3 separate regions of the Homo sapiens genome follow, and all the other regions are linked to region 3. Evidence: fine-mapped expression QTL. A gene starts in region 3. Each other region holds a variant in brackets. All regions are shown on one strand. Distances are from middle to middle.

Region 1 (10,129 bases), 36 kb before region 3:
TTTCTCTGAACCAGCATTGACCCCTGTCAGTCTCCTACTGTTTGGGATAAAACTACCTCATACTCTAGTATAAGGGCTGGTCAAATGCAGCCCACGGGCCACATCCAGCTGATACCTGTTTTTGTAAATAAAGTTTTATTGGAACACAGCCATGCTCATTGGTTTATAGACTGTCTGTTTTCACACTACAATGGCAGAGATCATCAGTAGCTGCAACAGACACCATATGGCCTGCAAATCCTAAAATATTTACTGACTACAGAAAAAGTATGTCAATCCTGCTCTATTAGGTAACAAGCTGAATACACCAAACACAACCTTTACCTTTCTAAGAATGGTTCAATTTTGCCAGATACACTGGGACCTGGGAAAGTCCTCCTTCCTTCTTGAAGTTTTCAGATCAGTAGCAGGTCATGCCCACCCAGAGATGGGCACTGTCCAGGTGTCCTGGAAGACTGGTTCAAACCCCAGAAAGGTACACAGAATCAACTGCCTCAGTCCAGGCATCCCTGATCCAGGTTCCCCAAGGTCAAGGAAGCACAGGGCACTTCTGGGTTGGAATTCGGGGAGAGTCAAACTGCTCTCTCTAGAGCTGACAAGTTTAATTCTCCACACCACGGGGAATGACATGTAAGTGAAGTCAATGACACAGCATCTGCTGCAGAAACTCAGCTGAAAAGGCCTGGCTCTAAACTTACCACAGCAGGTCCACAAGTCCTCCCTGCCTGGCAATGGCAGATTTCACCCTATTCGCAAACTGGACAGCATCTTCATCTGCCTGTAAGAAAGAACAAATGAGACCACTCAGCCCCGGCTTGACGTTACACAGAGCAGGCGCAGACCTGCCTGGGGCAGGCACTCACCTCTCTAGTCATGGGAGGCAGGTACCACACGCTGCAGACAATGGCCCAGCTGGTCATCATTCGCAGCAGGTACGTCACCATCCCGTATTTGCTGCTGTTCCAGAAGGCATCGCCAAATTGAGGGTCATACTGAAAACAATGGAAAGCTGGAGGTAAGACATGAGTAGTTCTCACAACGTTTGCGAGTCCACAGTGACTGCTGTGAGTGACTCCACTGGGCCGTGCTGGTACTGGGGTGCTGCTCCCTGACCTTGCATGAGTACTGTGGAAGCCCCTCTCCATGTGGCCGGTTCTGACTGTGAGCAACACTGATCTCCCCCGAGGAACCCGGCCTCTGCTACAGATCAGTAAGGAAGGCTCCCCTGACAGCCTGCCTCAAGCAAATGTCTTCCCTCCTTGATTAGTTTCAGGTCTTACTCATAGGTATATAAAGTTTTCAAACATCTCCAAAACCAGGGAGAAAAGGATCATGCACTCCCATGTACCCATTCCCTGATTCAACCACCGCCAACGTTTCCCACTTGCTCCACCTGTCCCCTCTCAGCATCCTGTCATTCATCTAGTGTACCTCCCCCAAATAAAGATATTTTCTTACACAAACACCAACTTTTAAATATGATTTCTGGTGCCCAGACCAGGGAGGAAACTATTAGAAAGCTTCTACATTTACACTTCCAACAAAGTCAGTCGTCTGTTCAGGAGGCGGCTCTGTGCTCACGCTGACAGCCTTGGGAGGTCTCAACCACACAGGCCTGCATCTACCATGAAGCAGGTATCAGATCCTTTCATTATTTCATTGGCATTTTGCAGAAAATGTAGCTGCAGCTGTGACCCACATTCTCACCAAACAAGTAGCTGGAGGGGCAGGTGAGCAGGGTAGGTAAGCTCTAGAGGAAGTTGCGCAAGGAGCAACAGGAGGACCTGGGTGCTTGAGAATGCCTGGACAAAGTGCCTGGTGCTGCCAGCGAATGTCTGAAGGGATCCTGTACACAAGGCAGTAGGCTGACCTTGTGCAAACACCCAGGACCAGAGTGGAAAAATAAAGGAGCCAGAATTTCAAGAGTTATGCCACACGGCCATGCTGCCAACAACATCAAAAATGCCCTTTCCCTGGGAAAGCCTGAGAAGGAGCCCAGGGCAGGGTCCTGCATGTGGGATGGGCTAGGGTTGAACTCTATGATCTTATAGGCCTTTCCAGCCTAAGTTTTATGATCCACAGTATAAATACTGGACAATTTTGACAAGACTGTGGCCCTAACTACAAAAATGAAGATAACTTAGGCTTAATTATAGAAGCTAAGAAAATTAGATTTAACTACAGAAGACTTAATGTGTTATTATAATACCAACAGAAACAAGGGAAAATAATAAGTTTTTAAAACTAAGCAATGTGTATGATCAGAAAGTATTTTTTTAATTTTAATTTTATATATAATAATATACATTTTGAGACAAGAGTCTCACACTGTCGCCCAGGCTGGAGTGCTGTGGCGCTATCTCGGCTCACTGCAAGCTCCACCTCCCAGGTTCACGCCATTCTCCTGCCCCAGCCTCCCGAGTAGCTGGGGCTGTAGGCACCTGCCACTACGCCCGGCTAATTTTTTTGTATTTTTAGTAGAGACGGGGTTTCACCATATTGGCCAGGCTTGCCTCGAACTCCTGGCCTCAAGTGATCCACCGGCCTCAGCCTCCCAAAGTGCTGGGATTACAGGCGTGAACCACTGCATCTGGTCATGTCGTTGTATTTTATAAAGCCTGATATGGACAGAAATTCTGATGTCACCAGAGTGTGAGAACCCTTTGTTTCGGGCTGATTCTCTATTCCACACTGGGCAGTGTGTGTGGACAGAGAAAAAAGGCAGAAGCTCAACACAGCGACACACTCCTCACATCAGGTCATGGCTGGATTCCGGTGGAAATATAAGAAGAGCCTTGAAATCGCTAAGGTTATCCAAGTTTGATTACCAATAAAGAGTTCACAAAAACCAGTAATCTGTAGACCAGATGTTCTTAGCCATACATGGGCTCTACTCTGTGGACTAAATGGAAATGTATCTAAAATTTATAAGCATTTTACTTTGGAGAGGAGCGGAAACTCCTCAGGGTTCGTGTTCTGACAGCAGCTAAGAGCCACTGCTTCAGAACTGTGGCCGCCACAGTGTGGTCCCAACTGGCACCATCAATGCCACCCAGAACATGTTAGAATGGAAAATCAGAAGGCCCAGCGGGGTGGCTCAGGCCTATAATCCCAGCACTTTGAGAGGCCAAGGCAGGCGGATCACTTGAGTCCAGGAGTTCTAGATCAGTCTGAGCAACGCGGGGAAACTCCGTCTCTACAAAAATTAAAAAATTAGCCAGGTGTGGTGGTGTGCACCTGTAATCCCAGCTACTTGGGAGGCTGAGACACAAGAATCACCTAAATGTGGGAGGTCAAGGTTGCATGAGTCATGATTGTGCCACTGCACTCCAGCCTGGGTGACAGACTGAGACCCTGCCTCAAAAGAAAAAGAATAGGAAGTTCAGAAACCCTGGGTGTGGGGCCCAGCAATCTGCATTTAAACAATCCCTGCAGGCAATGCTGATGCAGCCTAAGTTCAAGAGCTGCTGTTCTGGAGGCAGCAGTAAGGGCTTCCATCCAGCATCACGGTCACACTGCAAAGCACCTGTCCTCGTTTTGCCAGAATGCAGGATGCAGATGCCAGTCCCCACTCCCACACCCAAGGCAGACTCTGCTAACAGACTATGTTCCTCTTTCCTGCTGTTTCCAGACACAGCATCCTCAGGCTCTGGTGAGTCCTAGCCTGTCAATCAGAGTCCCCTGCAGGCAATATTCATCTGCCATCCCTGGCCTGGTCCTCTGCCTAAATGATAAACAGTGAGTGGCTGGTGAGCATCGGCCTCACCAGGAGCAACACCTCTCCAGTGGCACTGGCAAGGTGAAAAGAAAGTCAGAACCAACTCTACAGAATGCTCTGCAGACAACCCAGTCCCCTACAAAAGAAATTCTAAGTGTGAGCCTGACTCATATCTGCTCACCATTTTATCGAGCTCTCAGGCTGCAGCCTAAATACTTTAACCACACTGAGGATGGCCTGTGTTTTGTAGGTGTCATGATGTGAGGCCTGGTGGATGTGAAGAGGGTAAGAGCGGGGAGGAACAATGTGCAGATGACTAGCTAATCACATCCTATAGCTCTGGGTGTCTGAAGGGTTAGAGGAGCAGTTCCTAAAGGGTCGACGTAGACTAGATAAACTCCCAGGGTCCATCTCATTGTTAGGAGCTGTTGTAGGTCTAAAAGATGACACAACTAAAAGCAGTGAAGCTGTTTCTCCCACTGGGCTGGAGTAATGACCCCCCCCCCA[AT/T]CCTCATGGCTCCCCCAAAATGCAAAAATCCAGCTTAAAACCACACCACTGTGCCCTGCAATCAGCCAGCTTTCCATGTGGAGGGGCCTACATTCCAGCTAGGTTTATGAAGCAAGGTAATAAGTGAAGGGCTTGCCATTTCCCGAATGGTGGCGGCAGCAGCATGCAGGCGGGAATCTGGCTGTCCCCCATTCCACACTCCCCAGGCCCTTCTAAGGGGTGCTGAGCACTCACCATCCTCCTCCGGCAGCACTTGACCCACGTCAACCCAGCCCCACGCCACTCTGCTGAGGGCATCGACCACAGACTGGTGACCCCAGCTCCTTCCTCTACCTCCTCCTGCTGCACCCCACTCACAGCAGCTCCAGTAATGACAGTGTGTACCATCGGAGGTCTTATACCTTGATAGCAACAGGGTAAACTGTGGCTCCAATTTCAAAACTTCCCTTTTTGAACATCATCACCGATGTATTATTGATGCAGGTTCCTAAAATGCAGGAGACAATAAAATGCTATTTCTGTTGGCCCTTTACCCCAGATATTAGGCGTTTCTTAAAGACTAAGTATAATAGTCAAAATTCTTCTAATGGTTCCTCCAGTAAGATACATCTGTCATCTCCCTAACTTAAAAACAAACACTTAACAGAGACAGGCAAGATGGTGCCTCCGATTCTCTTTCTACAGGACCACTTTCCCTGATTCATACACACAGCCTAGATAAAGCAGAGACGCGCAGTGGCCTTAGGAGGACACCATGAGCTCTGTGAGGAGCTGAAACATTACAGAAGAAATTCCTGCATTTGGGGAGTTCACACTATGGCATTCTTAGTTCAAATTCTGAACTTACCTGAGTTTTTAGTCCTACTTCCAACCTAAAGGGGACCTAACATTATTCAGTGAAAACAGATAACCCCAACAAGGGCTGAGGGCCTTGGTTCCCAGGAAACATCAGCATCACACTCCTGCACTCCCCACAGAAGCCCTTCGTGGCAACCAACCCCTTCTTACCTTCTGGGAAGATGAGGATAGGCAGCTTGCTTTTATCTTGCACATGTTCAGTCAGTCTTTCAAAGAAGAAAATAAAATAAAGGGTCAGACAACCTTATACACATCGTCAAAATATGTTTATAAATAACCTATTTATTTGTGACACTAGTTTCGATTATAAAAAGTTAACAAGCATAACTGTATCCTTTTAAACCCATAATCTAATGCTCATCAAGAAAAAATGTATATGGATAGAGAAAAATCAGGTTACCATTTAATTCACAGAACTGTTCAATTCTGTGCGAACATCGGAGCACCAATGATGCCACTCAACCTGGGGGCCACCTGAAAGAGACACCTGCCACAAGGCCTGGGCATGGCCCCCTCAATAAACCTGTGTCACTAGACTATGTAACAGTTGTGAGGCTGGGCCCAGCCCTGCTGGCTCGATGCTCTGTCCCTGAGATGTAGCAAAGGGAGTTAGGGGAGAGTTCATCTGTCTCTATGGAAGATAATCTCAACTGTCTTTTCTTATGTGTTATTTTTTGAGACAGGGTCTCCCTGTGTTGCCCAGGCTGGAATGCGGTGGTGCAATCATAGCTCACTGAAGTCTCACCCTCCCTGGCTCAAGCGATCCTCCCACGTCAGCCTCCCAAGTAGCTGGGACTACAGAAGCGTACCACCACGCTCAGCTAATTTTTAAATTTTTTGTAGAGATGGGGGTCTTCCTATGTTGCCCAGGCTGGTCTCGAACTCCCGGGCTCTCAAAGCACTGGGATTACAGGCCTGAGCCACCATGTGTGGCTTGGTCTCAACTGTCTTGATGTCTCTGTCTGCTGCAAATCTCTTTGCATTACTTACAGCAGATTCACCTTCTTAAAGTTTGAAAACAGGGCAGTACTTTGTTCCACTGCCTTAGGTTTCTTTTTATTTGTGATAAATGAATTCATTTTGAGGTTTCAAATAGCAGTAAAAATTCGTATTTTGTTTATTATGATGGGTACAATGAATTAAAAAAAGGTTAAGAAACATTATTAACTTGGTAAATAATACTAGGGTTTCTATACTTTTTTTTTTAAGACAGAGTCTCATTCTATCGCCCAGGCTGGAATGCAATGGCGCGATCTCAGCTCACTGCAACCTCTGTCACCCTGGTTCAAACTATTCTCCTGCCTCAGTCTCCCTAGTAGCTGGGATTACAGATGCCCGTCAATAATTTTTGCATTTTTAGTATTTTGTATTTTCACCATGTTGGTCAGGCTAGTCTCAAACTCCTGACCTCAAGTGATCCGCCCACCTCGGCCTCCCAAACTGCTGGGATTACAGGCATGAGCCACCACACCCGGCCACTTTTAAAATTTCATGTTTTAGGAAAAAATTATTATGAAAGCAGTATAGGCTTATGATAGAAGGCACGTAACTGCACTGTGGAGGGATAACTACCCTGAAACCTTTTCAGCATTCTAACTGGCCAAGCAGAACAGCAGTGTTCTGTCCATTACCTCTTAGCCACCAGGTGGCGATCCTTCACTTCCGAGCGCTCAAACCAGACGTGTGGGCAGGCCTTCACCATGGCTCTCTGAATCACACCCATGAGTCCCCCGTGCACTTGACCCACCTAAGCGCAGGCACAGGACTCATTAGTAGTGAAGCCATCTTCACACGAATCTCCCCACTCTAGGAAGAACCACATCTCACAAAATAAGCAGTCCAACTTCTCACTTCTAACGCTTGCCGGCTGAAGGTTGCTCACTGCCAAGAAACCACTACCAAGACTCCCCAAATCTTAAACTTCTCCTTTTAATCAGTAATACTAGAAATAGGTAATTAAAAACATAACTGAAACCCCTAAGACAAAATACTAAAATACTAAAGTAGCGCAATTCCCTGTGTAAAACTGCCCCTCCCTGGGCAGATTCTCAGATGCCCTGGACACAGTCCTTGCCAGCAACTCCCTCTGCCCCTGCTGGTCTGCCTGACTGCCCTTGGCATCCTCTCCAGCCACACTCACCAATCACTCTGCCCAGGGTATCTCCTATCACAGTCCCACAGAGCCCCCACAGTGACAGTAAGGTGGGGGCCTGGCCCACGCATAAATGTGTTTATGTGAAGGGTCCAGGAGCCTCCTAGCCCTGACCACTCTAAAGCAGGAAGTCTTGCCTCAAGAACGCACCGGAAAGAGCTCTTACCATGGCATAATAGCCATCGCTGGCCAAGATGATCACATCGATCGGTGAGGTATGATTGGCCACACAGATGCCACCATTTCTTGGTCTGTTTTCCCTGGGTTTAAAATGTATGCAAAGCAACCAAAATTAGTGTGAAACAGTTCATGTAACACACCTCTCACCTCACATGCTTCATCTGCTCTAACTAAAAGCTCAGAAGTGTCTTCCCATTTGGCTAAGTATAGGTGGGTGGTGTTTCCTGCAGCGCCATCTCCCTTCCTATCAATACAAAGCGCTCTCACCTGTCATGGTAGGTGATGATGGCTGTCAGCGCTCGCACGCAGATCCGGTAACACATTAAGTGAACATGTTTACTCATGAACTCCTTAAACCTGCAATAACAGGACAAGGATTCTGGGTTTTATTTTACATACAGGAAGACAGAAAGAGTTACTGACTTCAACAGCTCAGCAGTCCTTTATAACAGCAAAGTGCTTGTATAGACATCAGCACCTACAGGAAAGTCCTGTGATGCATGAGCACCTTTATGTTCACACATGAGGAGAGAAAGAGGGGACAGGGAGACTCACTTACATCCACCCAAATCAGTGGGTGGAGAATTCACAGCCTAGAATCCGGCATCCGCAGACCACAGGCGGGCTGAACTCCGTTCCCCCAGTCAACATCCAGAGGCAGGTCCAAGGCCAGAGGCCAACCTCCTCACCCGCCCAGGCAGAAGAAAGGTTTCTAAACCCCAGAACTTCCCAAAGGGAGCAAAATATTCTTCACACAAACAGACAAAACCTCCCTACATTTCAAACCATTTTAAAAACTGTATTGTCTCATCACTTTATCCACACAGTCAAATGCTCAAAACTAAACAACAAGCTGTAAAATCTGTTAACATCTGAGTCTCGGACTCTACATGTCTGTGGCTCCTCCCTTTTGTCTTCAAAATGGGAAGAATGTGAGGGCTGAAGGACAAAAAGAACAGTCATAGATCAAAATTTAAAAAAAGTAAAGACTTTACTGCTGATGCCGTTGTTGCCATTGGGTTGTTATTATTATTTGAGATGGAGTCTCGCTCTGTTGCCTAGGCTGGAGTGCAGTGGTGTGATGTTGGCTCACTGCAACCTCTGCCCCCTGGATTCAAGGATTCTCCTGCCTCAGCTTCCCAAGTAGCTGGGATTACAGGCACCCGCCACCGTGCCTGGCTAACTTTTGTATTTTTAGTAGAGACAGGTTTCGCCATGCTGGCCAGGCTGGTCTCAAACTCCTGACCTCAGGTGATCCACCCACCTCAGCCTCCCAAAGTGCTGGGATTACAGGCATGAGCCACCGTGCCTGGCCACCACTGGGTTATTTAATCCATCTAAGATTCCATGGCTTTGGTTGTGTCCAAAGAAGTGTCCTTGCCTTCGATATCTGAGCACCATTCCCAGAACTAACTGTCCTTCAGGCATGGACTGCCACACTCTACTCACCTCCCATTTGGCAAGTATCCCACCACAGTTGTGCCCACCACCAGAAGGCTAATCCCTGTGAAAGCCAGTGCTATCCTGTAAGAAGAAGAAAAGTTAGAGCACAGCCAGCAAATCATTCTACCAAGTACAGAACTGAAGGTGTGAAAATCAAAGGGGGCATCACAAAAACCACCCCCAAGACCTGCTCACCTGGGACCTGGACCAGAGTTCACCTAGAAATGTAAGCAGGCCTATCAGAACCAGAGATCCTTTTGATTCCAGCTGACAGTGAGCCATGGGTCTGGCTCTCAGCTGCCTGCATCTCCTGAGGCCTCAGGCAGCTGGAAGGCTGGAAAACCCTAAGCTGGCCATTCTGCCACAGGGCTGCTCCCTGCTGCCCTCCCCTTCCCTTTGGCTGGAAACCCCGGTGGAAGCACAGCTTCCCTCTGAAGCAACAGGAGGTGGAGCTTGAAGGTATTAGCATCTGGCAAGGCACACTCAGAGCAGCACATGGTGCAGAGAAGCTGAAAGATCAATACTGCCCCTGTACCTGAGAGGCAAGCTTCAGGAAAGAATGAGCCATGTCCAGGAAGGAGTGGCAGAAAGCACACAATGTTCCCTGTCCCTGTGTTTGCTGTCATCTAGAGAAGCAAGCTGTCTTTAAGAAATCCAACTATTTCTGTCTGATATGCAGAGAATCCAAGGGCCTCTAAAGGAGAATCACCAGTGTATCCCTCCAAAGAGTCACGTGGCCTGGCTAACGACAGTCATTCCCTCCTCCTTTCTAAAACGGGAATACACAGCAGAGCAGGCAGGTGGGCTGTGCACCACGTGGGGTGGCAGCAGCGAGCCCCACTCCCGCAGGCCCTGCCTCACCTGAGCGGCAGCAGAAAGCAGTACCGAATCAGCACTCCTAACCCCCACAGGACCGTGAGCCGAAGGCTGATGTACTGGAAGTTATAATTGGTTCTGCTCAGCAGGTTCCAGGACTCCAGTTCTTCTGCTGAGAATCTCTTTGTCACCTCATCATCCATAATGGTCTCCATTCCTTTCCGGCAAAAGTAGAAAATGTCAGAGAGCTCGAACTCTGGAGTGTTGTCCAGAGCCTTACTACTACCACTTCGACGAATCTCTTTGATCTCTTCTTCTAGTGAAGTGGGATCCTTTGCAATGATTCCTGCAAAAGAATGTGTCCCTGTCAAGCAGCACGCTGGGGGAGAGCACGTGAGACATACTCAGAGCACACATCCTGCACTAATGCAGGGAAGAGCGTGTGTGGCACCAG
Region 2 (10,129 bases), 58 kb after region 3:
GGCAGAAAAATATTTCTGCTGTGTAAAGAAGGGTTATTAAAAGAAATGCCAAAGCAACACACAAACTTTTGGTGTTGATCGTTTGGCACTGTAAAGTTCAGGAAGGTGGGAGAAAAGAGGTCTTCAATTACATTATATAGAATGAAGAGAAAAATCAGGAACACCTGGTTGATGTGCACCCACTGTCAAGAAGTGTTTTAGAAATAATAAGATAGCCATATAAATGGAATGCAATTCATTAAAATGATCACAGATAAAAGGTGATTACATAGATTATTATATTAGGAGGATGAAGTTTGTGGATAGAATTTGCAGGCAAGCTTAGATGATTTAAATTGCAAGATGAACATACTAACATGAATTCAGACAAGTAAAACATGAAGTTACCTCGAAAGAGAAGGAAAAAGCTACTGCCCAAAGTGGAAGAGGAAGATACAGAAAATAGGATCCTATACAACTGAAGAAAGTGACAAGCCACAGCAATATTCAGATATTCTCAGTGAAGATGTTAATGGAAATTATAGACACAGCAAATAGAAACAGCCAAAATATTTGTGGACAGCCATACGTTATTATTATTATTACTATTTTTTGAGACAGAGTCTCACTCTGTCGCCCAGGCTAGAGTACAGTGGCGTGATCTCGGTTCACTGCCAGCTCCGCCTCCTGGGTTTACGTCATTCTCCTGCCTCAGCCTCCCGAGTAGCTGGGACTACAGGCGCCTGCCACCACGCCCGATAATTTTTTGTATTTTTAGTAGAGACGGGGTTTCACCATGTTAGCCAGGATGGTCTGGATCTCCTGACCTTGTGATCCGCTCGCCTCGGCCTCCCAAAGTGCTGGGATTACAGGCGTGAGCCACTGCACCTGGCCCAGTGGTACATTATTTTTATTTTTTGAGACAGAGTCTCGCTCTGTTGCCCAGGCTGGAGTGCAGTGGCATGATCTTGGTTCACTGCAACCTCTGCCTCCCAGGTTCAAGCGATTCTCTTGCCTTGGCCTCCAGAGTAGCTGAGATTACAGGCATGTGCCTCCATGCCCGGCTAATTTTTGTGTTTTTAGTAGAGATGGGGTTTCCCCATGTTGGACAGGCTGGTCTTGAACTCCTGACCTCAGGTGATCCGCCCACCTCAGTCTTCCAAAGTGCTAGGATTATAGGCATTGCACCTGGCCAAAAAGATACATTATTAATGAGAACAAATTTAATGTTTTAATCACCAAGGAAAAACAACAGTAAATACTGTATATCTATACAGAATTGTGAGCTTTCTGGAGAAAGATGCTTTCAGAATACAAGTAATGGCATTATTATTGTTCTCATATCAGTGCCCTTGCTTGTTTGGTCAGCAGCTGTTTCTCAGGGGTCCCTTTTTCTGAATTCCATCACAATCTTGGTCTCACTGCCCTGGAAACCAAAGAATTAAGATTTGGGAGTGTTTTAGTTAAGTTGAGTTTAACTCCCGGTTTTTCTGAATGCATGAAGATTGGCACTACAGACAGCCATGTAAGAGGACAGCTTGCATTTTTTTTTTTTTTTGAGACGGAGTCTTGCTCTGTTGCCAGGCTGGAGTGCAGTGGCATGATCTCGGCTCACTGCAATCTCCGCCTCCTGGGTTCAAGCGATTCTCGTGCCTCAGCCTCCCGAGTAGCTGGGGCTACAGGGGTGTGCCACCATGCCTGGCTAATTTTTGTATTTTTAGTAGAGACAGGGTTTCACCATGTTGGCCAGGATGGTCTCGATCTCCTGACATGATGATCCACCCGCCTTGGGCTCCCAAAGAGCTTTAAGGAAGGCAGAAAAGTGTGCTTACGCTGTTTTCTCTTAGGCTCATAAGGAAAGCTATTGGCTGGTGAACTTATACGTATTTTTCTGGCCAATGATAACACCCAATGCCAGCTGCATGGCCAGGATGCTGGAGAACTCAGGAAGCCGGGCAAGGCTTGGGTCTCCCTTACAAATGGAAAATCTGGGCAATTTATGATATTCCTAATTCCTTTGCTCTCCTCAGACCCTAGGTCCTCTGAAACTCTGTAAGGAGATATAAGAACTATCTGCCCCTTTGCTTGTTGTAGAATATACAATAATCATAAAAAATTTTTAAAAATTAAATATATCTTATGAAACACTGTGGCCAACATAGCATGTAGCTGGTTGAGTAAGATTATTTTCCTAATGCTTTTCTGAATATGTCAAGCAAAGAGAAAGGTGACCTTTCCATAAAGAAATTCATGTGCCTTTATATCATGGGCATCTTTGATGAGAAGCTTATGTGCCCAAGTGTTGGGCAAGTCTTATTTATTTATTTATTTATTTGTGATGGAGCCTCACTCTGTTGCCCATGTTGGACTGCAGTGGCATGATCTCGGCTCACTGCAACCTCTGTCGCCCGGGTTCAAGTGATTCTCCTGCCTCAGCCTCCTGAGTAGCTGGGATTACAGGTGCCTGCCACTGCGCCCCGCTAACTTGTATATTTTTAGTAGAGACGGGGTTTCTTGGTCAGGCTGGACTTGAACTCCTGACCTTGTGATCCACCTGCCTCAGCCTCCTAAAGTGCTGGGATTACAGGCATGAGCCACTGTGCCCAGCCTAAGGCTTCATATTTATTAAAGTCTATATAGTTTAGCTGAGAGATCTTGAGGGACTTGTCCTAAGGTCTAAATAAAAGCCAGGCCAAATTCAATCTCTCTTTCTCTCTGGCTGGAGTGCAGTGGGACAGTCATGGCTCACTGCAGCCTCAAACTCCTGGGCTCAAGCAATCCTCCCACCTTGGCCTCCCAAGTAGCTGGGACCACAGGTGTGTACCACCGTGCCTGGCTAATTTTTTTTTTTTTTTTTGTGGAGACGGGGGTCTCACTATGTTGCCCAGGCTGGTCTTGAAGTCCTGGCCTCAAGCGATCCTCCTGCCTCAGCCTCCTAAAGTGTTTGGGGTTACAGACATGAACCTCTGCACCCGGCCCAAACTCAGTATTTCTAAATGCTTGCACCTTAGGGCAATGCGTGCTCTCTCTCTCTCTCTTTTCCTATAGTGATGGGAAAAGGTCTGATTATAGTCAAAGTAAAGGGTAAAAGGTAGCCTTGTTCAAGAATGTGCCCCGTATCAAAATTTCATTTATTGTCTTGAATTTTAATGTCTTTCTTTTCTTTGTGTTAATGAATCATAGACATGGGCACCATTTTGATAACTTTTTAAATTAATTTATTTTATTTTTCGAGATAAGGTCTTGCTCTGTCACTCAGGCTGGAGGGCAGTGGTGTGATCTTGGCTCACTGCAGCCTCCACCTCTTGGGTTCAAGCGATTCTTGTGTCTCAGCCTCCCCTATAGCTGGGATTACAGGTGTGTGCCACCATGCCTGGGTAATTTTTGTATTTTTAGTAGAGACAGAGTTTTGCCATGTTGGCCAGGTTGGTCTTGAACTCCTGACACCAAGTGATCTGCTCCCCTCAGCCTCCAAAAGTGCTGGGATTACAGGCATGAACCACTGTACCCGGCCCGTTTTGTGAAATTTAGGCTAACAGTTATTGAAATAATTGTTTTCTGTGGGAGAACTCTTAGAATAAAATTCATTCATCTATATATGTTGACCCTTGAACAACTTGGATTTGAACCGCTGGGATTCACTTATGTTGGGTTTTTTTTCAAGTAAGTTACACCAGTGTGCTTGCCTCCTTTTCCACCTCCTCCACCTCATCTGCCTCTGCCACCCATGAGACAGCAAGACCAACCCCTCCTTCCTTCTTTTTACAATTTTTATTTATTTTTTATTAGTTTTTGTACAGATGAGGTCTCCCTAGGTTGCCCACGTTGGTCTCAGACTCCTGGTCTCAAGCAATCCTCCCGCCCAGGCCCTGCAAATTGCTGGGATTACAAGCGTGAGCCACCGCGCTCGGCCCCCTCATTCCTTCTTATGAAGACCTTTATGATGCTCCACTTCCACTTCATGAATAGTAAATATATTTTCTCTACCTTAGATTCTTAGTAACATACTCATTTCTCTAGCTTACTTTATTGTAAGAATACAGTATGTAACACATATAACGTTAAAATGTGTTAATTGACTGTTTATGCTATGGGTAAGGGTTCCAGTCAACAGTAGGCTATTAGTAGTTAAGTTTTTGGGGAGTCAAAATTTGTACGTGGCTGGGTGCAGTGGCCCACACCTGTAATTCCAGCACTTTGGGAGGCTGAGGCAGGCGGATCACTTGAGGTCAGGAGTTTCAGACCAGCCTGGCCAACATGGTGAAACCCTGTCACTACTAAAAATACAAAAATTAGCTGGGTGTGGTGGCACGTACTTGTAATCCCAGCTACTCAGGAGGCTGAGGTGGGAGGATCGCTTGAACCCGGGAGGCAGAGGTCGCAATGAGTCGTGCCACTGCACTTTAACCTGGGATACAGGGGGAGACTCCACCTCAAGAAAAAGAAAAAAACAAAAGTTGTACGAAGCTGGGCATGGTGGCTCACACCTGTAATCCTGGTGCTTTGGGAGGCCAACGTAGGAGGATTGCTTGAAACCAGGAGTTCGAGACTAGCCTGTGCAACATAGTAAGACCCTGTCTCTACAAAAACGAAAAGATTGCTTGAGCCCAGAAGTTCAAGGCTACAGTGAGCTATGATTGTGCCACTGCACTCCAGCTTGGGCAACAGAGCGAGACCCTGTCTCTTAAAAAAAAATGCAGATTTTTGACTGTGCAGGAGTTCAGTGCCTCTAACATCTGAGTTGTTCAAGACTCAACTATATATAAGTCATGGTTTTCTTGAGCTGATAAAATACAGTAAGATTCATTTAAAATTATTCCTAAATTCTGGCCAGGCATGGTAGTTGATGCCTGTAATCCCAGTACTTTGGGAAGCCTAGGCGAGCAGATCAATCGAGGCCAGGAGTTTGAGACCAGCCTGGCCAACATGGTGAAACCCTATCTCTACTAAAAATACAAAAATTAGCTGAACGTGGTGGTGCACGCCTGTAGTCCCAGCTACTCGGGAGGCTGAGGCATGAAAATTGCTTGAACTTGGGAGGTGGAGGTTGCAGCGAGCTGAGATCGCACCATTGCACTCCAGCCTGGGTGACAGAGTGAGAATCTTGTCTCAAAAAAAAAAAAAAAATTAAATAAATAAAATTATTCCTAAGTTCCAAGCTTTTTAATTAGAATTACAAAGATGGAATTATAATTACCATTGTTGTCATTATTTTCCCTCTACATGTAGTGTCTATGAATTATACATCTCTTAAGATGTCAGTACTTGAAATCATAAGGAGTAAGAGGCCTAGGCTGGGTGCAGTGGCTCACGCCTGTAATCCCAGCACTTTGGGAGGCTGAGGCAGGCAGATCACCTGAAGTCAGGAGTTTGAGACCAGCCTGGCCAACATGGTGAAACCCTATCTCTACTGAAAATACAAAAATTAGCTGGTTGCGGTAGCGGGCACCTGAAGTCCCAGCTACTCGGGAGGCTGAGTCAGGAGAATTGCTTGAACCTGGGAGGTGGAGATTGCAGTGAGCCGAGATGGCACCATTGCACTCCAGTATGGGCAACAAAGCAAGACTGTCTCAAACAAAAAAAAAAAGAGGCCTAACAGGAGAAAATTGTGAAATTTTAAATTTGTGACATCTTAAAACCTTCTGGGTTACGA[C/T]AGGTTTCTTTACTGAAACACTTCCAGGTTTCTCACTGGTAAAAGTTAATATCTTAGCTGAGTTCGACATTCACCCTCTATTTATCAGAAGGCTAGAGAACAGGATGATTATGTTCCATGCCACATACCATTATCTGAGTATTTTACTACTGACTTAGCTCAGAACAGATAGTGAAATAATTCCACCTTTAGAGTACCCCAAAGTGATAGAAATTATTAGATTTTTCAGTTTATTTCAGTTCAGTTATGAAAATACTTTCAACTGAAAATACTGAAGTCTGGTCATGCAATTGTGTTAATTGTTGATATTTTTTGAAATAAGAACCAGAAGCCTTGGGTCATTTGGTCTATTATTGCTGGTCTTGCTGTGAACAGCTGTGATGCTATGAGTTGCTAACTCATTGGAATCAATAAGATTTGGATGTGACCCATGGAGTTGTAAGGGCTGCTGTTACCTTTGACTTTTCTCTGTGAAGCAAGATCATGCTTTCCTAGTCATCCTCTCTGCTTTGTATTAGACATGTTTACTTCCAGTGAAAATTCAGCTTGACCCTGAACTTTACCCTTGGCTATAACCTGCTTCTAGGCTGGAAGTTTAATTCATGTATTTTAGAGTTCTACTCGTATACTTGTAAGCATGAAAAAGCCACTTTTTTCATATTTTCCACCTTTTTGGGGGGGTTATAATTAGAACTGGCAGAGCTCAGAGGCTAGTCTCTGTTGATGACCAATGGAACCAATCAGCTGAACAGGCCCGGAGGCTTTGAGGAAATTGAAGGGATCCCATGGGGTGGTGGTTATTGCATCCAAATTATCAAAACCATTCATAATACTGAAGATGTTAACTGGTGTGCCTGATATTTAGGATATGGTAATCCATATTGACAAGTACAAGTTGTTGGTTCTTTTTAGGCATTTGAAAACGTATGAATGATAAGAAGCCATATAACACGACAAACTCAATCTAAGTCTGTTGTGCTCCTGTTTCTGACCTCATTCCTGTTCCTTACTCTCTAGATGTAACCAGTATCTTCAACTTGGTGCTTATTGTTCCTATGAATAGTTTTTTGTTTTGTTTTGTTTTGTTTTTAATAGAGACAGGGTCTCGTTCTGTCACCAGGCCAGAGTGCAACCACAGCCCACTGTAGCCTCGACCTCCTGGGCTTAAGTGATCCTCCCGCTTCACTGTCCTGAGTAGCTGGGACTACAGGCTAATTTGTTTTTTTGTATTTTGGGGGGTTTTTAGAGACAGAGGCTTGCCCTGTCGCCCAGGCTGGAGTGCAATGGTGGGATCTCAGCTCACTGCAAGCTCCACCTCCCGGGTTCAAACAATTCTCCTGCCTCAGCCTCCCAAGTAGCTGGGACTACAGGCGCCCGCCACCACGCCCAGCTAATTTTTGTATTTTTAGTGGAGACGGGGTTTCGCCATGTTGGCCAGGCTGGTCTCGAACTCCTGACCTCAAGTGATCTGCCTGCCTTGGCCTCCCAAAGTGCTGGGATTACAGGCATGAGCCACTGCGCCCGGCTGCTAATTTGTTTTTTGTCTCACTATGTTGCCCAGGTTGGTCTCAAACTCCTGGCCTCACCGATCCTCCTACCTCGGCCTCCCAAGGTGCTGGGATTCCAGATGTGAGCCACTGTGCCTGGCCTGTTCCCAGAAATGTTTTTAAATTTGACCAACTGTGTACCCCAAAATAATATGGTAATATGAGCTGTGTGTGTGTGTAGTCATGGCATCAATTAGCATAACTCAGGAAATGTGCTTATAAAACAAGTTTATTTTTTCTCTACATTTATTTGTTGGGGATAGTTCTTCCCCTGTCACTGGACAAAAACTGATTACTCTTGTCACTCTGCTTAAAAAAAAAAAGAGTTCCATGATCTCCTTAAGTACCATTCAGTAATTAAAATATATAATCAAAACTCCCTCCCTCCCTCCTGGGAAACGGTGCCACACTGTGGGCTTAGCATGAGTCTCCATCGGCCAGTTGGGCTGCCAGCAGTAGCAGTGGCCAGGTCAGCCATGACGGAAGGAGGCCCATGTTGTGGAGCCCCTTGCATGCTTCATCCTTGCTGTGTCCACCTTTTCACATGGTCCCACTGAGCCAGCACCAGGAAGGCTGGGAAAGAGGCTGACTGATATCAGAGGACTTTCCACTTCCTTTCCTGCAATGAGAACCTCCCTGCAGGGATGCTATGTGGTGGGCATACACAACATATGAATTTCTTCACCTTCTATGCCCACTCCTAGGGTGCATCCACATAGGGTTTCTCTCCTCTTCCTCATCAGCCTCCAGTTGTATCTTCCAGATCCCTAAGCAGCTGTCTAAATAGTTAGCCACTTCTGTGATGCAGTGTTCCACGCTCAGGTCCCCTGCTGATCCCTCCCTTGCCTGAACCCTACCAGAAACGACAGGGCAAGGGAGCCAGGTTGTTGCAGCCTGCTCAGATTCGTCTTCTTAGAACATAAGGAGCACAGCGAAGGAAAAAAGGTATGAGAGACAAAAGGGGACGATCCAGGACACCATGCATTCTGAGGTCTGTGTGCAGGTCTCTCTTCTGTTCCATCATCCGTGAGCTATTCTTGTACCAATGAGACACATTTCAGCTACTACAACTTCATGTCTTGCTAGATACAGGGCATGTCTCTTCACTTTTCTAAAACCAGCATGTCAAGTTCCATTGAAAACCTTGTTGGGACCTTGGTTGCCAGGAAAATATATTTTTTTTAGAGATGGAGTCTCACTCTGTCGCCCAGGCTGGAGTGCAGTGGCATGATCTCGGCTCACTGCAACCTCCGCCTTCCCGGGTTCAAGCAATTCTCCTGCCTCCGCCTCTTGAGTAGCTGGGATTACAGGCGCCCGCCACCACGCCCAGCTAATTTTTTGTTTGTATTTTTAGTAGAGACGGGGTTTCACCATGTTGGCCAGTCTGGTCTCAAACTCCTGACCTTGTGATCCACCCGCCTCGGCCTCCCAAAGTGCTGGGATTACAGGCATGAGCCACCGTGCCCGGCCAAGCTTATCTGTTAAACGAAATGATCAGATTGAATTTTACCCTCTGAGCCTAAATGCTGGCTTTGGTCTCAGAGGCATTTTTACTTGCTGTCTTAACTGCTGCATGGAGTTAATATACAGCTGTGTATTACTCTGGCAGCACACATTTCCTTTATGGAAAACTTGTGGTCACTTCAAAATCTACACAGTACTTGGGAATAGAAAACAACTATTCCCTTTCTATTCCTAGGGAATAGAAAACAACTTGTCACAAGCAAATTTCCTCAGGGAGCCCCTATCAGGGATCTGATAATTTTACATTTATAGCTCTTGCTGGCAGGGGCTGGTGAAGTTTCTGTATTCAAGATGGCTGCTGTGGGGTTTCTGGTTACTTAAAAGGTGATTTTTCCTATCCTGAAATAGTCCCTCCATGTCATTAAATATTAAGGGAAGATCTTTTCTGCAATATTAAAAATCCCCCAAAACATGCTGTTTGGCCTTTCCTAATTGTGTGTGTGTGTGTTGTTGTTGTTGTTGTTTTTGAGACAGGATCTCATTCTGTCACCCAGGCTGGAGTGCAGTGGCATGATCTCAGCTCACTGCAGCCTCGACCTCTCAGGCTTAAGTGATCCTCCCACCTCAGCCCTGCAAGTAGCTGGGACCACAGGCGTGGGCCACCATGCCCAACTAATTTTTGTGTTTTTTTGTAGAGACAAGGTTTTGCTGTTGCCCAGGCTGGTCTCAACTTCTGGGCTCAAGTAATCTGCCCACCTTGGCCCCTCAAAGTGCTGGGATGATAGGTGTGAGCCCAGCCCCTACTTTTTTTTTGTTTTTGTTTTTGTTTTGAGATGGAGTCTTGCTCTGTTGCCTAGGCTGGAGTGCAGTGGCGTGATCTTGGCTCACTGCAGCCTCCGCCTCCCGGGTTCAAGTGATTCTCCTGCCTCAGCCTCCCGGGTAGCTGGGATTACAGGTGCTTGCCAACACACCCAGCTAATTTTTGTATTTTCAGTAGAGATGGGGTTTCACTATGTTGGCCAGGCTGGCCTCGAACTACTGACCTCAAATGATCCACCCACTTCGGCCTCGCAAAGTGTTGGGATTACAGGTGTGAGCCACCGTACCTGGCCTGGCCCCTAATTGTTAACTGAAGCACTCTTCATTTTAAAATTAGAAACGAGAATCACAGATGTTGATTTTCAAGCGCATAATTCTTCAAATATCTAAGAAAGTAGAAACTGGACTAAGTAAAACATTTGTAGATTTTATGAGATAAACAAAGATGTGCAAGTTGTGCACATGAATCCTTTTGTTGGGAGGAAAAGATCACATCTATGTTTCTCAGCCCTTGCACATCCCAGAATCTGAGCTAGCTATGTTGTTTGACACTCGGCTGCTCCGTGAAGAGTAATTAACAAAACATTTTGAATACAAGTTATTATCATTTCCTGGCAATAAACAGGTCTGTTAAAACATGAGGTAAGAGGATATATACATGAACAGA
Region 3 (10,129 bases):
ACCAATTTCTTGTACATATATATATATTATTTTTTTTTTGAGACAGTCTCATTTTGTGGCCCAGGCTGGAGTGCAGTGGTGCGATCTCTGCTCACTGCATCCTTTGCCTCCAGGTTCAAGCAATTCTCGTGCCTCAGCCTCCCTCATACCTGGGATTACAGGCACAGGCCACCACAGCCGGCTAGTTTTTTTTGTATTTTTAGTGGAGAAGGGGTTTCATCATGTTGGCCAGGCTGATTTCAAACTCCTGACCTCAAGTGATCTACCCACTTTGGCCTCCCAAAGTGCTAGGGTTACAGGCATGAGCCACCACGTCAGGCCAATTTCTTGTATATTTTAATTTGAAATGTTAAGTAGATTTGAAATGTTCCCAACACAAAGAAATGATGTATGTTTCAGGTGCTGGATATCCTAAATACTCTGATTTTATCATTACACATTCTATCCATGTGGGCAAATATTACTGTACACTATAAATACGTAAAATTACTGTTTGTCAATTTCTTAAAAATTGATACATAATTTTACATATGTATGGAGCACAATGTGATGTTTTGAGATACACCCACACACACACACACACACACTCTCTCTCTCTCCCTCCCCTTGTGGAATGATTAAATCAACCTTATCTATTTCTTTGTGCTTTTTAAAAAAGCATTATTATAAAATTTAAAATTGTGTATATAGCATATATAATATTTCTATGGGACAGCACTGATCAAAAATTTTTAAAGGAGACTCAAAATAATGTATCTTCAACTGGCAAAGAAAGAAAGAAAGATGTGTGTGTGTGTGTGTGTGTGTGTGTGTGTGTATACTTTCCCACCCTATTTCTCCAAGGTGAAGAAAATGGTACAGCAGAAAGGGCTTAGATCTGGAACCAGGACTGCCTTTAGGTTCTAGGTGCAACTCTTACTGTCTAGTCTATGTGTCCCTGAATACATCATTCAGCTTCGGCCACGTGCAGTGTCTCACGCCTGTAATCCCAGCACTTTGGGAGGCTGAGGTGGGTGGATCACCTGAGGTCAGGAGTTCGAGACCAGCCTGGCCAACATGGTGAAATCCCATCTCTACTAAAAATACAAAAATTAACTGGGCGTGGTGGCGCATGCCTGTAATCCCAGCTACTTGGGAGATAGGGAAATCATTTGAGCTCAGGAGGTGGAGGGTTGCAGAGAGCCGAGATCTCGCCACCGCACTCAGGCCTGGGCGACAGAGGAAGACTCAGTCTCCAAAAAAAAAAAAAAAAAAAAAAAAAAAAAAAATCATTGAACTTCCCTTGATTTAAGCTTCCTGATCATTTTTTTTTTTTAATTCAAACAAGTCGGCCGGGTGCGATGGCTCACGCCTGTAATCCCAGCACTTTGGGAGGCCGAGGCGGGGGGATCACGAGGTCAGGAGATCGAGACCATCCTGGCTAACACGGTGAAACCCTGTCTCTACTAAAAAATACAAAAAAAAAATTAGCCGGGCGTGGTGGCAGGCGCCTGTAATCCCAGCTACTGAGGAGGCTAAGGCAGGAGAATGGTGTGAACCCGGGAGGCGGAGCTTGCAGTGAGCCGAGATTGCGCCACTGCACTCCAGCCTGGGCGACAGAGCAAGACTCTGTCTCAAAAAAAAAAAAAAAAAAAAAGTCAACAAAGGCCTGGCATGGTGGCTCATGTCTGTAATTCCGACCCTTTGGGAGGCTGAGGCGGGAGGACCGTTTGAGCCAGGGAGGCTGAGGGTGCAGTGAGCCTTGATCATGCCACTGCACTCCAGCCTGAGCCACAGATCAAGACCATCTCTATAAAATAAATAAATAAAAGTCAAGTGCAAATGTATTACGCTCCTGTTTTACAAAGCATTTTTCTATTATTGCAGATCTTCGGTTTACAAATTAACTGGAGGTGGGATCCAAACATACTAAGATTGTACAAGGCAAAATGAAGAGAGCCCTAGATGAGACTCTGTGTTTGTGTGGCATGTGTACGTGTCTGCATGTGTTTTAAAGGTGAAAAAGTACATTAAAGGACTCAGGGGAAACTCTAAGCACTTGGAAGACTCCTTCTAACTCTAAAATTCTATTCTCTTAAAAAGCCTTAATCATAGTGTACGCTATTACATGGTTTAGTGATACATGGAACGGATGATATTCCGTCAAGTTCTCTCCATGAGCACAATGACACAGTAGGAAGTAAAAGACACGTCATAATGAGGTTCTACTTTACCCAAACAAACAATTCTGCAGTACAGTTCATGTTTAACCAGGGCCAAATCATCTCCAGATAGCTTAGAGAGTTTTGTTTTGTTTTTAATAAAAGCTAACTTGTGGTGACAAGCACACACAAGAAAAGTGGGTTTTTCTTTAGCAGAAACCACTTAGCAAGTTAGGCTAGCCTCTGAAGAGCCTAGCCACAACACTCCTCACACCAAACACAAAATAGACACACAACAGTTGCCTCCTCCTCCCTCCTCTATCTTTAGGGGTAATGATTTACCATGACACTCAAATGCTGTTATTGCAGTGGTACTTCCATAAACTGGACATGCATAACAACTATTGTATTTAGGTCACAAACTCACAAAAGAAAAGTCCATCCTGAAAGTAAGTTGACAACTATGTCATCATATAAATAACCTAAACTTCCATGAAAACTCAAAGACCCCTAACATGAGGACTTGCTTGTTCCCAGCATTCCTTGGAGAGGCAGAATATCCCCATTTTAAGGGTAGGAAAATTGAGGAATAAGTACTGAATTTACCAGTCTTTGTTGAGATAAGGAAATGTAATAGCATAAATTTTGCTAGGAAATGCATATTATGGTTTTGTAAGAAAGTCTAACCCATGGTCCAAGAAGCCCAGATTCTTACCTATTAATGGCATGAAAGGCTTTCTGAGATGATGCTATTGTTCTCTCAGAAAAAGAAGAGTAACACTCTTAAGTCATTCTGGTTTCCCTTAGTAACTCTTTCTTAAATAGCCGTGAATGTTATCTACACCGTTTATAGCTTGTTCTTCTTCTCAAACTGGTATACCACTTCTAAGGTCAGAATTTTATCATGTTCCCTAAAAACTATTATCAGAACTTCTCGTCTGCCCCAAATTGATTTTTAAGAAATAATTTAAGGCATTTCTTAAAATTCTGAAATTTGGTGGAAAAGCTCATGTTCGCCTATCCAAATCCTTCATGAATGTAAGCGTCTTCATCCACAGCCTTCCTACACCATTTCTCTTTCCTGAAGGCAAGTAGTATGGGTCAGTGGAACCGCAGCCTCGAGGCAGAGGCGAGATTTCAGCCTCTTAAGACCTGCAGCTCTGGACAAGTCACTGAACTTCTCTGGACCTCCAAGGGCTCAGAAAAAAATGAAAACATTGAACAGGACGTTCCGAATGTTCTCATCCAGATCTGAAACACTTTTTTTCTTTTCTTTTTTTTTTTGACACGAGTCTCGCTCTGTCGCCCAGGCTGGAGTGCAGCGGCGCAATCTTGGCTCACTGCAACCTCTGCCTCCTGGGTTCAAGCGATTCTCCGGCCTCAGCCTCCCGAGTAGCTGGGAATACAAGTACTTGCCACCACGTCCGGCTAATTTTTGTATTTTTAGTATATGCAGGGTTTCACCATGTTGGCCAGGCTGGTCTTGAACTCCTGACTTTAGGTGATCCGCCCGCCTCGGCCTCCCAAAGTGCTGGGATTACCGGCGTGAGTCACCACGCCCGGCCATACTTTTTCTTTTAACCTGTTCTATCATGTTAAGATACCTTTTGCTGTGCTCTTTCTTCAACTCTACTGTGTTTCTTAGCTGAAGACCTCATGAGTAGGCTGTGTTCCAAAACAAAAAGCACCTTATGACTTGGTATGGTGGTTTTCATTATGGAACTGAAGCTACTTTTGACAGACTCATCTTGCATCAAGTTCTCCCTGAGACATACGGGAGGGGAAATGGGTGGGGTGTGTATGGCACAGGAATAGCCACAGTTAAGTGGCTGAGGAGGCCAGAACAAGTACATGCTGGTTCCCTATTCCATCTATTTCCCTGTGTCTGAAATTCTCCAAAATACAAAGTTAAAAAAGAAAAGAAAAGCACATCTCTTTCAAAGAGAGAAGTATATTTGATTGGCATTATTACAGGATTTTGTCTGGAGACTTTGGTATGGTATAACTGCTCTTCACACCATTTCCCTTGGATTGAGATAGAATCTACAAGACATGAAACTAAGGAGAGCTCCTCAAAGTTCAGCCAAAATTAAGGAAAATGAACCAAAAACAAAATTCCTCAAATGACCTCAAGGTTATCCATGAGAAGATCCATGGTAATACTTGGCAGAGGATGGAACTTATTTCCATCGTGCTACACCGTATGTCTCCTATAAGCTATTTTCTGCAACTTCTGAACAGCTAAACTTCAGCCCTCTGTGACATGGAAAGCGAGGAAATAAACAAGCCCCACTGGGAGAAGGATGCCTCAGAGGGTGCTGAAATAAAAAAGGAAAGGCAAGGGATTTCAGGAGTTAAGAAATCCTAAAGAAAAATGGGAGCATGCATTTGGAGAAGGAGAGGGTAAAGACATGCATCTTACGGCAGCCAGAGAACACAGGAAGGGGAATGACAGGGGAAGGCGCTTCCTGGTGCTCCAACGCCCAGCAGCCCTCGCCACCCACATCCCCGGACTCCCGGGGCGGGAGGGCTGCGCACACCTGGGACTTGGGGGAGGCGAGGGGCTCCGAGGAGCCGGGCTCGGAGAGCAGGCGAGCGGAGAGGCGGGCGGCCGGGGTTCGGGGCGGGCGCGGACCGTTCCATCCCGGACGGGGGGCACCCGCTCCACCCGCCGGGGATCCCCGGGGCGCGGCGATGGTGCCTCCTGACGCCGGCGCAGCGTCGCCGGGGCGTCCCAGACCGCAGGCCCCGCGCGGCCGCCCAAGCCCGGCTCCCACGTCCCGCTCTCGGCTCCCCGGAGGTCGGAGACTTTGAGGTAAGGGGCCAGCTCCCTCCTACTCACCGACCGCGAGGCTAGGCAGCTCCAAATCCCGCGGCGACCGCTCCCTCCCGCCCTTGCCGCCGCCGCGGGCCCAAGCTGCGTCAGGACGTGCGCGCGCCCGCCTTTGTCTGCGCCGCCCAACGTGACCCTGCGCCCACCGCCCCGCACGCTCCCGTCGGGCGCGCGCGGGCCGGCAGGGCGGGGGCCTAGGGAGAGGCGGGTGCCGCGTGGACCGGTCGCGGGTTGGGCGACCCGCGGAGTCGCCCTCTGGCGGACTAGGGGGCACTGCCGGGGGCGGGGCGGGGCAGGAGCAGGAGAGGCCGGGCCCTGGCTGTCCCTCCGCTGGCGCGTCCCTCTCAGAAAGCGGAGCGCTTCCCTGCGTTAGGACCCGATACTGGCTCCCTCCCCGGAGGTTCGCTTGTGTGTTCCGGAGAGGGTGAAATCAGGCTGGCACCGCGGGAAGAGGCTAGAGTCACTAAATCACCTTGTCCTCTTGAGGCTGCTGTCCGTATGCAGCGACATTCTGCCCGTTAGAGGACTCAGCTCAGGGCCTGGTACGCTCAAGATCTGTTAGCTACCAGCACCATCACCACGACCACCGTCATCACCAGCAGTATCCCTCAGCCTCGTCTACCTTGCTCGTCAAGCAGGGTGCTCCAGGAGTGGGTGTAGGCCACTTTCGCCCTGCCTGGCAGATGCAACTTTCCAACTTCCACCTCCACTTGGACCTGCTCTCTCTACTCAAGTCTAGCTGGTGGCTGCTGGAGTTTGCGTGTGTGTTTCTTACTATATCTTCTGACTTCGGACGCCTAACCCAAGCTTATTATCTCCCCTAAAATGGGACCTCCTTAAAATATATATTACCTTTCTTTTTCCTGTTCTTAAAAGACAGTTTGCCTTTAGTGCCAAGCCCTCTCCGCCGGTTTACGCTGTACACGGCTGTCAGATTGTCATTCCGTGCTAAATGCATAATCTGATAATGAAATCTTTAAAGTCCACATTCTTAGACCTCAAAATCTCTGTAAGAATAAAGGGCAGAGTATGGTAGTTCACGCCAGTAATCCCAGCGTTTTGGGAGGCCAAAGCAGGAGGATCGCTTGAGGCCAGGAGTTTGAGACTAGCCGGGGCAACGTAACGAGACCCCCACTTCTACAAAAATTTTGAAAATTAAAAAAAAATGGTGGGGGGAGCGGGGCGCGGGTAGCTCACGCCTGTAATCCCAGCACTTTGGGAGGCAGAGGCGGACAGATCACTTAAGGCCAGGAGTTTGAGACCAGCCTGGCCAACATGGTGAAACCCCGTCTCTACTAAAAATACAAAATTTAGCCGGGGGTGATGGCACGCACCTGTAATCCCAGCTACTCGGGAGGCTGAGACAGGAGAATTGCATGAACCCAGGAGGCAGATGTTGCAGTGAACTGAGATTGTGGCACTATACTCCAGCCTGTGTGACAGAGCGAGACCCAAACTCAAAAAAAAAAAAAAAAAAAAGAATAACCACTTAGCTCCAAAACACTGGACTACTTATCTCCACCAAATATAACTAAATGTTACCCATTTGGAACTGATCACGTATTTATTAACTCAATCACTTATCCATTCATTGAGCCCTTGTTACTCGCCCAGCTTTTTTGGGGATCCCAATTCAAGATTGAGTAATGCATGGCCACGTCTAATCGTCAACGACATTAAATTCCATAAGAGAAGAAACCACCGGGCGCGGTGGCTCACCCCTGTAATCCCAGCACTTTGGGAGGCTGAGGCGGGGGAATCACGAGGTCAGGCATTCGAGACCAGCCTGACCAACATGGTGAAACCCCGTCTCTCCGTCTCTACTAAAAATACAAAAATTAGCCGGGCGTGGTGGTGCGCACCTGTAATCCCAGCTATTCGGGAGGCTGAGGCAGGAGACTTGCTTGAACCCAGGAGGCGGAGGTTGCAGTGAGTTGAGATCGCACCACTACACTCCAGCCTGGGCGACAGAGGGAGACTCCATCTCAGAAAAAAAAAAAAAAAAGAAGAAGAAACCAGACATCATACATTTTTGTGTTGTGTTCTCCACAGTGCTAGGGATAGGGATTTAAAGTGGCCACCAGGATCTCAACTGCTCTTTGGAGTCCTTCGTCTGGTCTCCTTTTCTGCCCCCAGAACCAGTCTTGGAAGTAGCCCACTCATCTGCTGTACTCTCTTTGTGTTCTCATGGTTATATTTTCTCACAATTCTTACCATCTACTAGTTCTTTGTACATAATATTGAAATCTTAAAATATTTCACACATATTAGAGGCTCAAGAGAAAATGGTGTTCTTTGCCCAAGCAAATAGTAGGCTCAATTGTTGGGTATTAACACTGATACACACACACACCTTGTGAGTGTGCACATTCACTGGCACATTCTCTAAACTTCTCAAGTGCAGGAAGGCAATCAAACTTCCCTCTGAGTGGGAAGCCAACATGAACTAGGTAAATATAGTTCCTGTAGGCACCAAAACTTTTATCACATTCATTTCTAGGTACAAGGAATGTAAATGGGCAGATGAAACAAGCAAGTCATGCTTGAAATGCTTGACACAAAGCAGACTTATCTTTAGAGAAGGCCTCCTGCCCATAGCATGACCGAGCTATAGCCAACACTGAACTTCTTGTCGCTGTGAATATGGGCTGTCTTTAGATTATTGTTGGCAGTATTTTCACATTCTAGAATGAAAAAACTCATACTGCAGAAATTATAGGAGTAATTTTTAAAACCTGATGAAGGGTAGTCCTTTAGAAGAAAGAGATCACAAGATTTAGATCCTACCCCATACTAACTTTGAATTCATTCATAGTATGAGGGCATTTCCCCAAAATGTGTGCTCTGTACATGGTGCACAGTGCTGTGAGCCTGGGAAGAACCCCTTTCCCCAGGAGAGTACCATGCCTGTGCCGTACAACTTATCTTCCTTCCAAAGTCAACTTTAACATCTACAAAGAGTTTGCCATTCATTAAGAGGTGAATCCCTAACTGTCGACTGCACAACCAGCAACATCAATGCTCATTTCCAAGCACCAAAATAAAAAGCCAAAGAAAGTAAAATAAATATTATTTTTAAAAAATGTTTTCAATTGTGGTAGAATACGTAGAACCTAAAATTTATTATACCATCTTAATCAGTTCTTTTTTTTTTTTTTTTGAGATGGAGTCTCACTCTCTTGCCCAGGCTGGAGTACAGTGGCACAATCTCAGCTCACTGCAACCTCCGCCTCCAGGTCCAAGCGATCCTCTCACCTCAGTCTCCCGAGTAGCCAGGATTACAGGCATGCACCACCACATCTGGCTAATTTTTTTGGTGGAGGGGAGAGGGGACGGAGTCTCACTCTGTGGCCCAGGTTGGACTGCAGTGGTGAGATCTCGCCTCACTGCAACCACTGCCTCCCAGTTCAAGTGATTCTTCTGCCTCAGCCTCCCAGGTAGCTGGGACTACAGGTGCGCGCCATCATGCCCAGATAATTTTTGCATTTTTAGTAGAGATGGGTTTTCACCATATTGACCAGGCTGCTCTTGAACTCCTGACCTTAGGTGATCTACCCACCTTGGCCTCCCAAAGTGCTGGGATTACTGACATGACCCACTGGGCCTGGCCCATCTTAATCATTTCTAAGTGTACAGTTCAGTGGTGTTAAATATATTTTCATTATTATGAATCTTCAGAAATTTCCATCAAGGCTGGGGATGGTATCTAATGCCTGTAATTCCAGTTATTTGGGAGGCTGAGGCAAGTGGATTGCTCGAGCCCAGGAGTTTGAGACCAAGCCTGGGAAACATGGGGGAACCCAATCTCTAAAAAAAAAAAAAAAAAAAAAAAATTGACATTCTATGCCCATTAAAAAAAAATTTCATTTCTCTTCTCTCTACCCCCAGTAACAACCATTCTACCATTCTACGTTCTGCTAATGGGAGTTCAAGTAGTCTGCCTCATATAAATAGTCGGATTTTGTCTTTTTGTGACTGGCTTATTTCACTTAGCACAGTGTCCTCCAGATTCATCCATGTTGTAGCATGTGTCAGAGTTCCCTTTTTTTTAGGGCTAATATTCCATTGTATGTATGTATGTTTATTTTGAGACGGAGTTTTTGCTCTTGTTTCCCAGGCTTGAGTGCAATGGCATGATCTTGGCTCACTGCAACCTCCGCCTCCTGGGTTCAAGAGATTCTCCTGCCTCAGCCTCCCAAATAGCTGGGATTACAGGCATGCGCCACCATGCCTGGCTAATTTTTTTTTTTAATTTTATTTTTAGTAGAGATGGAGTTTCACCATGTTGGTCAGGCTGGTCTCGAACTCCTGACCTCAAGTTATCCACCCACTTCAGCCTCCCAAAGTGCCGGAATTACAGGCATGAGCCACTGCGCCTGGCCCCATTGTATTTGTATACCACATTTTCTTTATCTATTTGTCGTTGACGGACATTTGGGATTGATCCTGCTTTCAATTATTTTGTGTATCTACCCTGAAGTGGGATTGCCCAATCGTATGGTAATTCTACTCTCAATTTTTTTAAGTCTGGAGTTGGGAGGAGAGCTTCAGCTAGTGATATAAATTTGAGAGTCAGGCCGGGCATCGTGGCTTATGCCTGTAATTCCAACACTTTGGGAAGCCGAGGCAGGCAGATCGCTTGAACCCAGGAGTTCAAGACCAGCCTGAGCAATATGGTGAAACCCTCTCTCTAAAAAAAAAAAAAAAAAAATTAGCCAGCCATGGTGGCAGGAGCCTGTAGTCTCAGCTACTTGGGAGTCTGAGGTGGGAGGATCACTTGAGTCCAGGAGGTCGAGGATGCAGTGAGTGAGATTGCTTCACTGCATTCCAGCCTGGACTACTGGAGTGAAACCATGTCTCAAAAAAAAAAAAAAAAAAAAAAAAGGCCGGGCGCGGTGACTCATGCCTGTAATCCCAGCACTTTGGGAGGCCGAGGCAGGCGGATCACGAGGTCAGGAGACCAAGACCATCCTGGCTAACACGGTGAAACCCCGTCTCTACTAAAAATACAAAAAATTAGCCAGGCGTGGTAGCAGGCACCTGTAGTCCCAGCTACTCAGGAGGCTGAGGCAGGAGAATGGCGTGAACCCAGGAGGTGGAGCTTGCAGTGAGCCGAGATTGCGCCACTGCACTCCAGCCTGGGCAACAGAGCGAG

Evidence for each region.
Region 1: its variant is fine-mapped to the expression of GPAT4 in whole blood (INTERVAL, PIP above 0.99).
Region 2: its variant is fine-mapped to the expression of GPAT4 in whole blood (TOPMed, PIP above 0.99).

What each region holds. Positions count from the first base shown.
Region 1 is chr8:41,609,547-41,619,675 of GRCh38, reverse strand. GPAT4 (glycerol-3-phosphate acyltransferase 4) reads right to left here. Exons shown (of 13, transcript NM_178819.4): 4 at 9,721-10,021; 5 at 8,866-8,940; 6 at 7,684-7,773; 7 at 7,403-7,496; 8 at 6,716-6,831; 9 at 5,235-5,290; 10 at 4,628-4,713; 11 at 864-992; 12 at 699-778. Among named protein-coding and RNA genes, the nearest start is that of NKX6-3, 36 kb to the left of the region's middle. RefSeq lists an enhancer at 9,888-10,129. The variant AT/T (reference allele first, on the strand shown) is at 4,226.
Region 2 is chr8:41,515,384-41,525,512 of GRCh38, reverse strand. No RefSeq gene overlaps it. Among named protein-coding and RNA genes, the nearest start is that of GINS4, 8.8 kb to the left of the region's middle. The variant C/T (reference allele first, on the strand shown) is at 5,633.
Region 3 is chr8:41,573,133-41,583,261 of GRCh38, reverse strand. It overlaps GPAT4 (glycerol-3-phosphate acyltransferase 4), which reads right to left and starts at 5,062. Exons shown (of 13, transcript NM_178819.4): 1 at 4,984-5,062. GPAT4-AS1 (GPAT4 and GINS4 antisense RNA 1) reads left to right here and starts at 4,894. Exons shown (of 3, transcript NR_125824.1): 1 at 4,894-4,956. RefSeq lists silencers at 4,556-4,695, 4,716-5,335, 9,886-10,092.